2 separate regions of the Homo sapiens genome follow, and region 1 is linked to region 2. Evidence: fine-mapped expression QTL. Tissue or cell type: testis. Region 2 holds a variant in brackets; the other region holds the start of a gene. All regions are shown on one strand. Distances are between the middles of the regions.

Region 1 (5,369 bases), 34 kb before region 2:
CAGGTCTAGTTTGGGAAGAGCTGAAGGAAGCCTTGCTATGCTAGTAGGCTCCAATTCCTGCACCTGGCAGCCTCATGGGGCTGGTTGGAGCAGGCAAGGCCTGAAGGTGTGTGTGTGCGGGGGGAGATGGTGAGCCGCCGAGAGGAGCAGGAGCTGAGTTATGTTATGGCCTGCGTGGCCGTGGAGAGCTGGCGCACCCACGCTGCACTTGTCCATCCTGGGGTGGAGCCAGGAGGAGACAGCTGCAGTAGACGGTGACAGCCTGGGGCAGCGGTATGGATGCCAAGGCAGCTCCTGCTGCCCGGAGGGCACACATCTCCCAGGTCTGCCAGCTGTAGACTCTGTCCCTGGCTGTCCCCACCTGGCCTAGTGCCTAGCTGGCCCAATGAAAGATGCCTAGCAAGGCTTGGCACTCAGTAGACCCAAAGTTGTCACTTCTAGGAAGGCCCAGGTAAGCGTCCTCAGTGGGGACTTGCAGGGTGGGGAGGGCACACGGGCAACCCAGTCTCAGCTCCTGCAGCATCCCTTGAAGGAAGATGGGTCAGAAGACAAAGGCTGATGCTGGCTGCAGAGTCTGGGGAGCTGCTCACTGGCCCCCAGCCCAAGTGTGGTTGGAGACAGTGGAAAGGCGGTTCCTCCCGATGCCCATGTGGGCCTCTAGCAGGCCCAGACTGTGAAGGCCTTGGGAGCCCCTGGATAGGCAGGCACCTGCCTAAGTAGCTGCTCCCAGGCTCTCATGGCCACCCTCTGTCCTTCCTCAGGGAAAGAGCTACTGGCATCTCTCCATCACTGGTTATGTATGCCCAGGCGGCGCCCAGGCCCTGCCCAGCCCAGAGGGTGGGAAAGACACATCCAGGAAACTGTGTCTAGCAGAGTGGTCGGTTTTGAGCTGAAGCCTAGGGTTGGGGGTGGGAAGGAGGCTGATTGCCCTGTCCGAACCCAGCCCTGGCAGCATCCACCCCATGGGCTGTGGGCACTTGCACCTCACCAGAAGCTGGGGAGTCTGGCAGAATGACAGGGATGGGGGGATCAAGGAGGCACCTACTCCCAACACACCCCCGTGGCTGGGGGTGCTGGTCTGGGTACCTGAGACGGGGCACCTCCCACCTGAGCCTGGGGAGGCGCTAGACATTGTCCGTGGGCACTGAGAGGCCACGTGCTCTGCTCCCATGGAGGGAGCAGGGAGGAGAGGAGGTCCAGCAGGTTGGACGGGGCCTGGGGGAGCCCCACTGTCAGAGGTGGATTGGTGCTTATTTATACAGAGGATGCCTTGCAGAGTCGTGGGCTGTGAATAAGAGGCCTGGCTCGAGGCGGGGCTTATGACATTAGGGGCTCCAGAACCGGGGAAACATGCCCTCAGGGCTGCCCAGGCTGGTGCTGGTGGCGGTGTGGCAGGGAGAGTGAGTTGGGGCCCTGAGGGAGAACAGTTGCTCATAGCGCTTTGAAGGCGAGTGGGGGGCCTTAGTCTGAAGTTTCTTTTTACCCCAACCCTCTTTCCACTGTCACCCCCAGAAGGGCTTCAGTGTGTATGTGGGGCAGGACCGCAGCAGGGAGGGAGGGTCAACCCCTTCCCCCGGGGTCACTACAGAAGCGGAGGGACGCTCCTCTCTTCACGGCTGCCCCTGAGACCTGCTTTTTCTCGGAGCTGTGTGACAAAGTCCCCACCCTTTACTCCCCCACGGCAAGGAAGGGACCTCCCCTTCGCATTAGTCAAGGGGCGGCAGCTCGCCCTGTGCCCCGTACAAACCCTTGGCTGAATCGCAGTTGATGCTGTGATTCGAGTCCAAGCCAGTTTCCCTGTTACCTCCTTTGCCCTTAATGGAGGAAACTGAGGCAGCTGCGGAGACACAAGAAGCCGAAGTCCTAAGACCCAGGCTGCGAGCGCTGGCTCCGGGACCCGGGCTGCCGCTGACGGGCTGGGCCCGCGGGCGGCAGCAGGGGGCGCTCGCAGGCCGGGACGCGCCCTCCTCGCGCGGCGCTGGCCCGACGGAGCTGGTCCGCGAGGGGCAGCGCCTGGGAAAGGGTCGGGACCGGCTCCCCGCTCCCCGCTCCCCCACCTCTCCGCAGGGCGTCTCCACGGCCGAGCCGGGCGGGGTTGTGGTGTATTGCGACCCGGCGCCCCAGCCCCACGCCCGCCCTGCCCTCCCTGCGGGCTCCCGAGCGGCGGAAGGCAGAGCAGGGCGCACCGGCGCCGGGCCCAGCCCGGTTCCCCCGGGAGAAGTGTCCCGTCCCGGTGCCGGCCCGCGCGCTAGCTCCGCGTCCCGGCTCCCGGCACCCACCGACCCCTCCACAGCTGCGCGCGTCCTGCCTGGGGGCCGGAGACCCCGGCCGCCGGGCCCCTCCGCTCTCCCGAGGCGCGGCCGCCGGGAGGAAGGCAGGTAGAGGCGCTGGGCGGGGTCCGGGCGCGGGAAGTCCCGGGCTCACGCCTCCCGCGAAGCGCACCTTCAGCCCACCTCGGTCCGCCCACCGCCCCGCCTCCCGCCCGCTCCCGCGCCCGCCTCCAGTCTCCGCCTTCCTCCAGCCGCTCTCCCCGCTCCCCACTCCCCTGCAGGCGCGGCTGGGGCGAAAGCCTGCGAGCTGAGCGGGCGCAAGGTCCTCCGCGCCTCCTTTAAGAACCGGCCCAGCCCGGCCCGCGCCCCCAGAGCGTACGGCATCCGCGTGGCGGGAGGGCGCGACTTTCTCCGGTCCCGGGCGGGACGGGGACGGCGGCGGGACAACTTGGGAAACTTCTCTGGGGCGGACGGCAGGGACCCCGGGCACCGGTGGAGGAGGATGTAGGAGGGCGGCTGCTGGTCCTGGGTGTTCCCGACCTCCTAGGCCCCGCTCGTCCAGGCCATGGGGCTCCAGCGCCCTCGGCGCCGCCCGAGGGGCGACGCTCTTGTCTAGCCGAGCCGGGCAGCGCTGTCGTCCACGGTGCGCACTGGGCGGGCAGCGCTCCCTCTGCCCACCTCCCGCCCCGTCATGGACCACCAGGACCCCTACTCCGTGCAGGCCACAGCGGCCATAGCGGCGGCCATCACCTTCCTCATTCTCTTTACCATCTTCGGCAACGCTCTGGTCATCCTGGCTGTGTTGACCAGCCGCTCGCTGCGCGCCCCTCAGAACCTGTTCCTGGTGTCGCTGGCCGCCGCCGACATCCTGGTGGCCACGCTCATCATCCCTTTCTCGCTGGCCAACGAGCTGCTGGGCTACTGGTACTTCCGGCGCACGTGGTGCGAGGTGTACCTGGCGCTCGACGTGCTCTTCTGCACCTCGTCCATCGTGCACCTGTGCGCCATCAGCCTGGACCGCTACTGGGCCGTGAGCCGCGCGCTGGAGTACAACTCCAAGCGCACCCCGCGCCGCATCAAGTGCATCATCCTCACTGTGTGGCTCATCGCCGCCGTCATCTCGCTGCCGCCCCTCATCTACAAGGGCGACCAGGGCCCCCAGCCGCGCGGGCGCCCCCAGTGCAAGCTCAACCAGGAGGCCTGGTACATCCTGGCCTCCAGCATCGGATCTTTCTTTGCTCCTTGCCTCATCATGATCCTTGTCTACCTGCGCATCTACCTGATCGCCAAACGCAGCAACCGCAGAGGTCCCAGGGCCAAGGGGGGGCCTGGGCAGGGTGAGTCCAAGCAGCCCCGACCCGACCATGGTGGGGCTTTGGCCTCAGCCAAACTGCCAGCCCTGGCCTCTGTGGCTTCTGCCAGAGAGGTCAACGGACACTCGAAGTCCACTGGGGAGAAGGAGGAGGGGGAGACCCCTGAAGATACTGGGACCCGGGCCTTGCCACCCAGTTGGGCTGCCCTTCCCAACTCAGGCCAGGGCCAGAAGGAGGGTGTTTGTGGGGCATCTCCAGAGGATGAAGCTGAAGAGGAGGAAGAGGAGGAGGAGGAGGAGGAAGAGTGTGAACCCCAGGCAGTGCCAGTGTCTCCGGCCTCAGCTTGCAGCCCCCCGCTGCAGCAGCCACAGGGCTCCCGGGTGCTGGCCACCCTACGTGGCCAGGTGCTCCTGGGCAGGGGCGTGGGTGCTATAGGTGGGCAGTGGTGGCGTCGACGGGCGCAGCTGACCCGGGAGAAGCGCTTCACCTTCGTGCTGGCTGTGGTCATTGGCGTTTTTGTGCTCTGCTGGTTCCCCTTCTTCTTCAGCTACAGCCTGGGAGCCATCTGCCCGAAGCACTGCAAGGTGCCCCATGGCCTCTTCCAGTTCTTCTTCTGGATCGGCTACTGCAACAGCTCACTGAACCCTGTTATCTACACCATCTTCAACCAGGACTTCCGCCGTGCCTTCCGGAGGATCCTGTGCCGCCCGTGGACCCAGACGGCCTGGTGAGCCCGCCTGCGCTGCCCCTGTGGGGTTGGTGCGGTGGCGCCGGGGTCACCCTGCTTCTTGCCCTGCTGTGTGTGGCTGCCTCCCCTGGGCTTTCTGCTCCCTGCCCAGATCCTGTAGGCCTCATCTTAGGAACCCCTTGGGAGGGGTGGGCAGGGGGGCTGCTAGCAAGGGTCCCAGTGAAGCTTCCCCTTGCCGGCTTAGCTGTGGGGGACCCCTTCTCCACCCTCTCCCTGAGCACAGGCCGATGGAGGTGGTTCAAATCCTCTGGAACATAGCCAAGACCAGGAGAAGAGAGAGCACTTTCTTCCCAGAGCCCCATGCTCTCCAGACCAATGTCTGGGCTTCCCTTTCTTGAGGACCTTGTGTTCCTGGCAGGTCACTTGCTTGTGGTGTTTTCGTTTCTTTTTCATCTCCCCCCCACCCACAAAGAGCACGGAGCCAGCCTTCCACTTTTCCCAGTGGGGCCTGCTGCTGAGGGGGAGGAAGAAACGAAGACTGATCACCCACGCTAGGCACTCGCGGTCCCTGGCAGGCGCTGGGATGGGGGCTTATGGGGTGGCATCGTCTCTGGGCCCTCCTTTCCCCCTTTGCCTGTTTTCGGATCTGTGGTTCCTTTGAAAGCCAGAACAATGGATCGGCTTCCTTACCCAGCACCCCTCCGGTAGGTGGGTGGCCACGTGGATGCCTCGCTGGGGCGGTCTTGGAGGCCTGGTCTCTGCCTCGACGGGAGATCCCCGATCACTGGCATTCACCCCCTGCAAAAATCGGGGCGACAATAGCTCACTGCCTACTTGCTGCAGGGAGATGAAAGGCTTTGCAGAAAGCTTTGAGCTCTGTGGGGGAACACACTAGAGAACCAAAAATGTGATTATATGGTGATATAAAAATCCCTTTCCTCTGTGTTTACCACCACCTGTCTTCCTGTAGACTTTTGTTCTGTCCCTGGGGTGTGTGAATTCCTACCCCGAACTGGAAGCCGGGAGTGGCAGACAGAATCACTATTTCAAGTTAAAGGATCTCTTTGAGAATGTGTTCTTCTGGCTGCAAAGGTCTGA
Region 2 (5,369 bases):
CCCTCCTCCTTGCCTCCTCCAGCCCAGCAGCCCCTGGCTGGTTGCAGGCAGCGGCAAACCAGAGCGGGGTCCTCAGGGCAGGCTGCTGTGGTCGCTGCTCCACCTCTGGGCCTCCCTTAGGGTTTGCCGGATTAGCCAAAGCAGTGCAGGTGGCCCCGGCTGCCAGGGAGGGAGGCCCTGGGCCTGGAGGAGGTGCCCACTCTCCACGACCGCCTGGAGGGGCCTGCTGGCCAGAGGCTGCCCCTACCACTTCTCAGGCTCACACCGTGGTCTGTTCATTTGTTCATTTGTTTGTTCAGACATGGTAGACGCCCCCTGGCATATTCAGGCTGGTGGAAAGGGCGCCACTGTGACAGTGCAAAGCATGAGGCTTGCTGAGAGGATCTATCAAACCCAGCCAGAGGGCATCCAGGGTGGTCTACAAAACCCACAGCACAGGACAAAGGCAGACACACACACACGGTGAGAACTCTCACAAGCAAGAAGCAAGGGCGGGATGATGGGGTGGAACCCAGGGGGTGTCCTGCACTTTCAGGAGAGATGGCTGCTTGAGGGTGGCTACAGGGTACCCGGTCAGGGACGTGATGTGTGATTCATGCGGTCAAGCCAGAGCTGGACTCAGAAACAGCGCAGACAACCCGGGGGCAGAGGGCATTTCTCCCTTACCCCGTGGCTGGGACTTGGTGAGCAATATCCCAACAGCGCCTGCACCTGCTGCAGCATCCCTGGGTATCAGGGCAGCTTCCTCTCCTGGAATCTAGATATGATGGCCATGAGCCCCAAATCCTATGGCTCCTGGGAGCGAGGCCCTTCTGGAGGCCTTTGTGACTGCTGGGTTAGAACTCGTGCTCATCCATTATCCCCGGTTTTGGCTACTAGACAGTTTTGAGGATGCACGTGTATTCAAGGACATCCATGGGAAGAGAGATGAAGAGAAAATGAACATAAATTATGTTAGTGGCCCCTCATGGGGCCTGGAGGTCAGTGTGGGTGGTGACAGGCATGCGCCTAACTCAGGCACTAAGGAAGGAAGAGGGAGGAAGTGGGGAATGGCTCTGAGGCTAGAGAGGGAGGGTGAGCCTCTCTCCCTAGGGTCTTGCAGGGATTGGGGGTGGCAGGAGCCCAGATGGGGCAGCAGTGTCCAGGGGTCAGGATTTGAATGTGCATGGCCTCTGACTATGCACTCCTGGGGTAGGGCAGGGCCTGGGAGGGCTTGGCAGACGTGGCCTTCTGCATGCCTCTCTGCTGAGGTTGGGGCACGAGGCTAGGCCAGCCAGAATTTTTGGGCCACCTCTGGCTGAGCACAGAAGGCAGCTGTCCCCAGTGGAGGGGTGGGGGCCTTGGCCCTTGGAAGCAGGTCATGGGATGTGGATGCTTAGATATGTGCGGACGTGAGCAGCTCTGCAGTCCTTGGCCCCTGGCTGGCCAGCCCCGGCGCCAGGCCTGACTTCCCCTCCTCCTGACACTGCCAGGCTGGAGGCCAGTGGCTGACCGAGCAGGCTCTGCCTTGGGCTGAGCTGGAGTAGGGAGGGTCTGCAGGACTAAGGAAAAGTCCACTGCTAAAGCTATGGCAGCCTCCATCTCATCAGCCTCCTAATTAAAGTGACACTGCACAGTGCCTGCCAAATTCATTGGATGTTGACCCCAGGATGTGGTGGCCCTCCCAGGACTAGGGGAAGAGGCAGGTGGGCTTCCTGGCCACCTAAGGCAGCCTGAGAGCTGCCCATGAGTGGGGTGGGAGGGAGGGCAGCTGTGTAAGCTACACTGGGCTCGGAGAGACAGGAGATGTGAGTCCCTGTCCCTGCCTGTTCCTTATAAGTGGTGTGGTCTTGGGCAAGCAGCTTCCCTCCTCTCTAAGGAAGTTATGAGGTCAGTTACACTCTTGGGAGTGGAGAAGCTTCCTTTGTAAACTGTGAAGTGCTGCCAGAATGGGAGGTGGAGAGGAGAGCTGGCCTTCCAATCGATGACCTGATGACCTCAGCTGGCCAAGCAAAGAGGTCCTGGGGGACAGGCAGGTGTCTTGGCCCTCTCTCCATTTTGTCCCCTTGCAGACTAGCCGTGGGCTGGGGTAAGTATGAGTCCAAGACTGGACCCCGGCCTGGCCAGGACACAGGCTTGGAGCCTTGCATTTTGCAGGCTGGAAGGACATCCTTGAGAGAAGAGCTATTACCAAGGCGGGATGGATCTGATAGCTTTGTGAAGTGATCAGCAAAGAGTGAGCACCCAGGCTGTCCAAACCTCAGGCCTTGGAAGAAGTGTGGCACTCGCAGGACTGCCTGCTCATGGCAAGGCACCAAGGTACGACCTTGTGTGGGTCACGGGAGCCGCACAAGCCAATACTCTTACCTTTTGCCTGGAAAGGCCTGGAGATGCAGGCCCACCTGGGCCACCTGAGTTACGCACAAGTGTGTTAGTTCAGCACCTCCTCCCCTGCAGATAGACCTCTTGCCCAGGATCACAGGGATGGTCAGTAATAGCCCGAGCCAGGACTCCAGGGCTTAGGGCCTGGGCAGCTGCCGGAGGTGGGGGGTTGTCTACCTTG[T/C]GGCCCCTCCCAGAAAACATGCTTGTAATTTGGAACTCTGGTTGTGCAGCCGCCCCGTTGGCAGCTTGAGAGGAGCACGTGTTGGTGAGAAGGAACATGGCATCCTCTGCCTTGCTCTGGTCTGGCCTCTCATCCTGCGATGCAGGGGCTCCATCCACAACTCTCTGTGAAGAAGAAATACAGACTTTCTCAGACAAACGAAAATTGAGGAAATTTATTGTCAGTACACGTGCCTTGTAAGAAATATTGAAAGTTCTTCAAAGAAAAAGAAAAACATGTAAGTCAGAAACTTGGATCTATATAAAGAAAGAGAGCACTGAAGAAGGAATGAGGGAGGATAAAATAGAAAGTGTTTTTTTTTTATTCTGAATTGATCTAACAGGTAACAGTTTGTTCAAAATAATAATAGCAACAATATATTCAATTATTTAATCGTATATGTATATTATACACATAGAAACATATACTTAAGTATGCTTATGTATGAGTAAAATAAATGAGAGCAGACATAAGAGGCAGGAGGCAGGAATTGGGATTATTTTGTTATTATAAGATACTTGGTACAACCCATGAAGTAGTATTTGGTATTTGAAGATGGATTTGCATTAGTTGTAGACGTATACTGCAAATCTAGGGAAAATACTGAAACAAGTGAAAAAAATAAGAAGAAAAGTATTTTTTTTAAAAAGGAAGTTGTCTTAGTGCGCTTGGGCTGCTATAACAAAATACCTCAGACTGCATAATTTATAAATAATACAAATTTATTTTTCATAGTTCTGGAGGCTGGGAAGTCTAAGATCAAGGGAAGAGCAGATTTGGTGTCTGATAAGGGCTCACTCTCTGCTTCCAAGGTGGTACCTTCCTGCTGTGTCCTTGCGTGGTGGAAAAGATGAATAGCCCCCTCTCACCTATTTTGTTAAAGCACTAATCCATTATTGAGGGCTCCACCCTCATGACTTAATCACCTCCTAAGGGCCTCATTTCTTATCATATTGGTGGTTACATTTCAACATATGAATTTTGGGGGAACATATTCAGACCATAGCAGAAATATGCTGACTATTTATTTTTTGGTCATATAAAATGCTCAATTAAAAACCACAAAAGGCAGAAAAAGAGTGGGAGGAAAAATAGAGGAACAAATAACAAGGCAACAAATAGAAAAACAGTAACGGGTATGGTAGATATTAATCTATGTCAATAATAATTTTGAATGCCAATGGTGTAAATATACTAAGACAGAGATTCTGCAAAGCAAAAGAAACTATCAACAGGGTAAACAGACAACCCATAGAATGAAAGAAAATGTTTACAGCCTATGCATCTAACAAAAATCTAATGTCTTGAATCTATATGGAACTTAAACCCACAAGCAAAAAACAAACAACCCCATTAAAAAATGGGCAAAGAACATGAACAGACACTTCTCACTTGATCTTAGCCAAAAGGCCGAGAAGCGATGAACAGACACTTCTCAAAAGACATCTGCACTGGCAACAAGCATAGAAAAAATACTCAATATCGATAATCAAATCAAAACCACAATGAGATACCATCTCATACCACTCAGAATGGCTATTATTAAAAAGTCAAAAAATAACAGATGCTGGAGAGGTTGTGGAGGAAAGAGAATGCTTATACACTGCTGGTCAGAACATAAATTAGTTCAGCCACTGTGGAAAGTAGTCTGGAGATTTATCAAAGAACTTAAAACAGAACTACCATTCAACCCAGCAATTCCATTCCTGGGTGTATACCCAAGGTTATGTAAACCATTCTACTGTAAAGACACATGCAGGCATATGTTCATCGCAGCACTATTCACAATAGCAAAGACATGGAATCAACCTAGATGCCCATCAATGATAGACTATATATACACTATGGAATACCACAGAGCCATATAAAAGAATGTAATCAATGTCCTTTGCAGCAACATGGATAGAGCTGGAGGCCATCATCTTAAGTGAATTAACACAGAAACAGAAAACCAAATACTGCATGTTCTCACTTATCAATGGGAGCTAAACACTGAGTATACACAGACACATAGAAGGGAACAACAGACATCCGGGGGCTACTTAAGGGTGGAGGCTGGGAGGAGGGTGAAGATTGAAAAACTACCTATTGGGTAATCTGCTTATTACCTGGGTGACAAAATGTCCTGTACACCAAACTCCCATGACATGAATTTACCCATGTAATAATAAACCTTCACATGTACCCGTTGAACCTAATATAAAAGGTGGAAAGAAAAATAAAATAAAAGAGATTATCAGAGTAGATTAAAAAAACCAGACCCAGCTATATGTAGTCTACAAGAAACCCATTCTAAATATAAAGATGCATCTAGATTAAAATTAAAGTGATGGAGAAAGATACACCATACAAATATTTAACTAAAACACCCCCCAGAATATCTGTATTAATTCAGGCAGAGCAGACTTAAAGAGCAAGGAAAGTTACCAGAGATAAAGAGGGGCATTACATAAGAAAAAGGAGTCAGTTCTCCAAGAAGACATAACAATCCTGAATGTGTGTATGCACCTAACAACAGAGCATAGAAATATGTAAGGGAAAAATTGACAGAACTGCAAGGAGAAACAGATGAATCCACTACTAAAGCTGAAGACTTCAACACTCGTTGATCAGAAATCGGCAGACGGAACAAGCAGAAAATCAGTAAGAACACAGTTGAACTCAACAACACCAGCAATCAACTGGATAAAATGGACATCTATAGACTACTTCATCCAACAACAGAAAATTACACATTCTTCTCAAGCTCACATGGAACATTCACCAAGATACCACATTTTAGGCCATG

Alleles and levels. Positions count from the first base shown, and alleles are read on the strand shown. Sizes are in standard deviations (SD) of each study's normalised expression.
With allele C in place of T in region 2, the expression in testis of the gene that starts at base 2,540 in region 1 is higher (large effect, 1.7 SD a copy in GTEx).

What was found.
Region 1: ADRA2B starts here. The variant in region 2 is fine-mapped to the expression of ADRA2B in testis (GTEx, PIP above 0.99). The same link has a PIP of 0.9 or more in hippocampus.

Annotation. Positions count from the first base shown.
Region 1 is chr2:96,113,742-96,119,110 of GRCh38, reverse strand. It overlaps ADRA2B (adrenoceptor alpha 2B), which reads left to right and starts at 2,540. Exons shown (of 1, transcript NM_000682.7): 1 at 2,540-5,369. The coding sequence starts at 2,962. The coding sequence ends at 4,314. RefSeq lists silencers at 1,711-1,780, 1,821-2,280, 2,291-2,450, 2,551-2,640.
Region 2 is chr2:96,079,480-96,084,848 of GRCh38, reverse strand. No RefSeq gene overlaps it. Among named protein-coding and RNA genes, the nearest start is that of ADRA2B, 34 kb to the left of the region's middle. The variant T/C (reference allele first, on the strand shown) is at 2,543.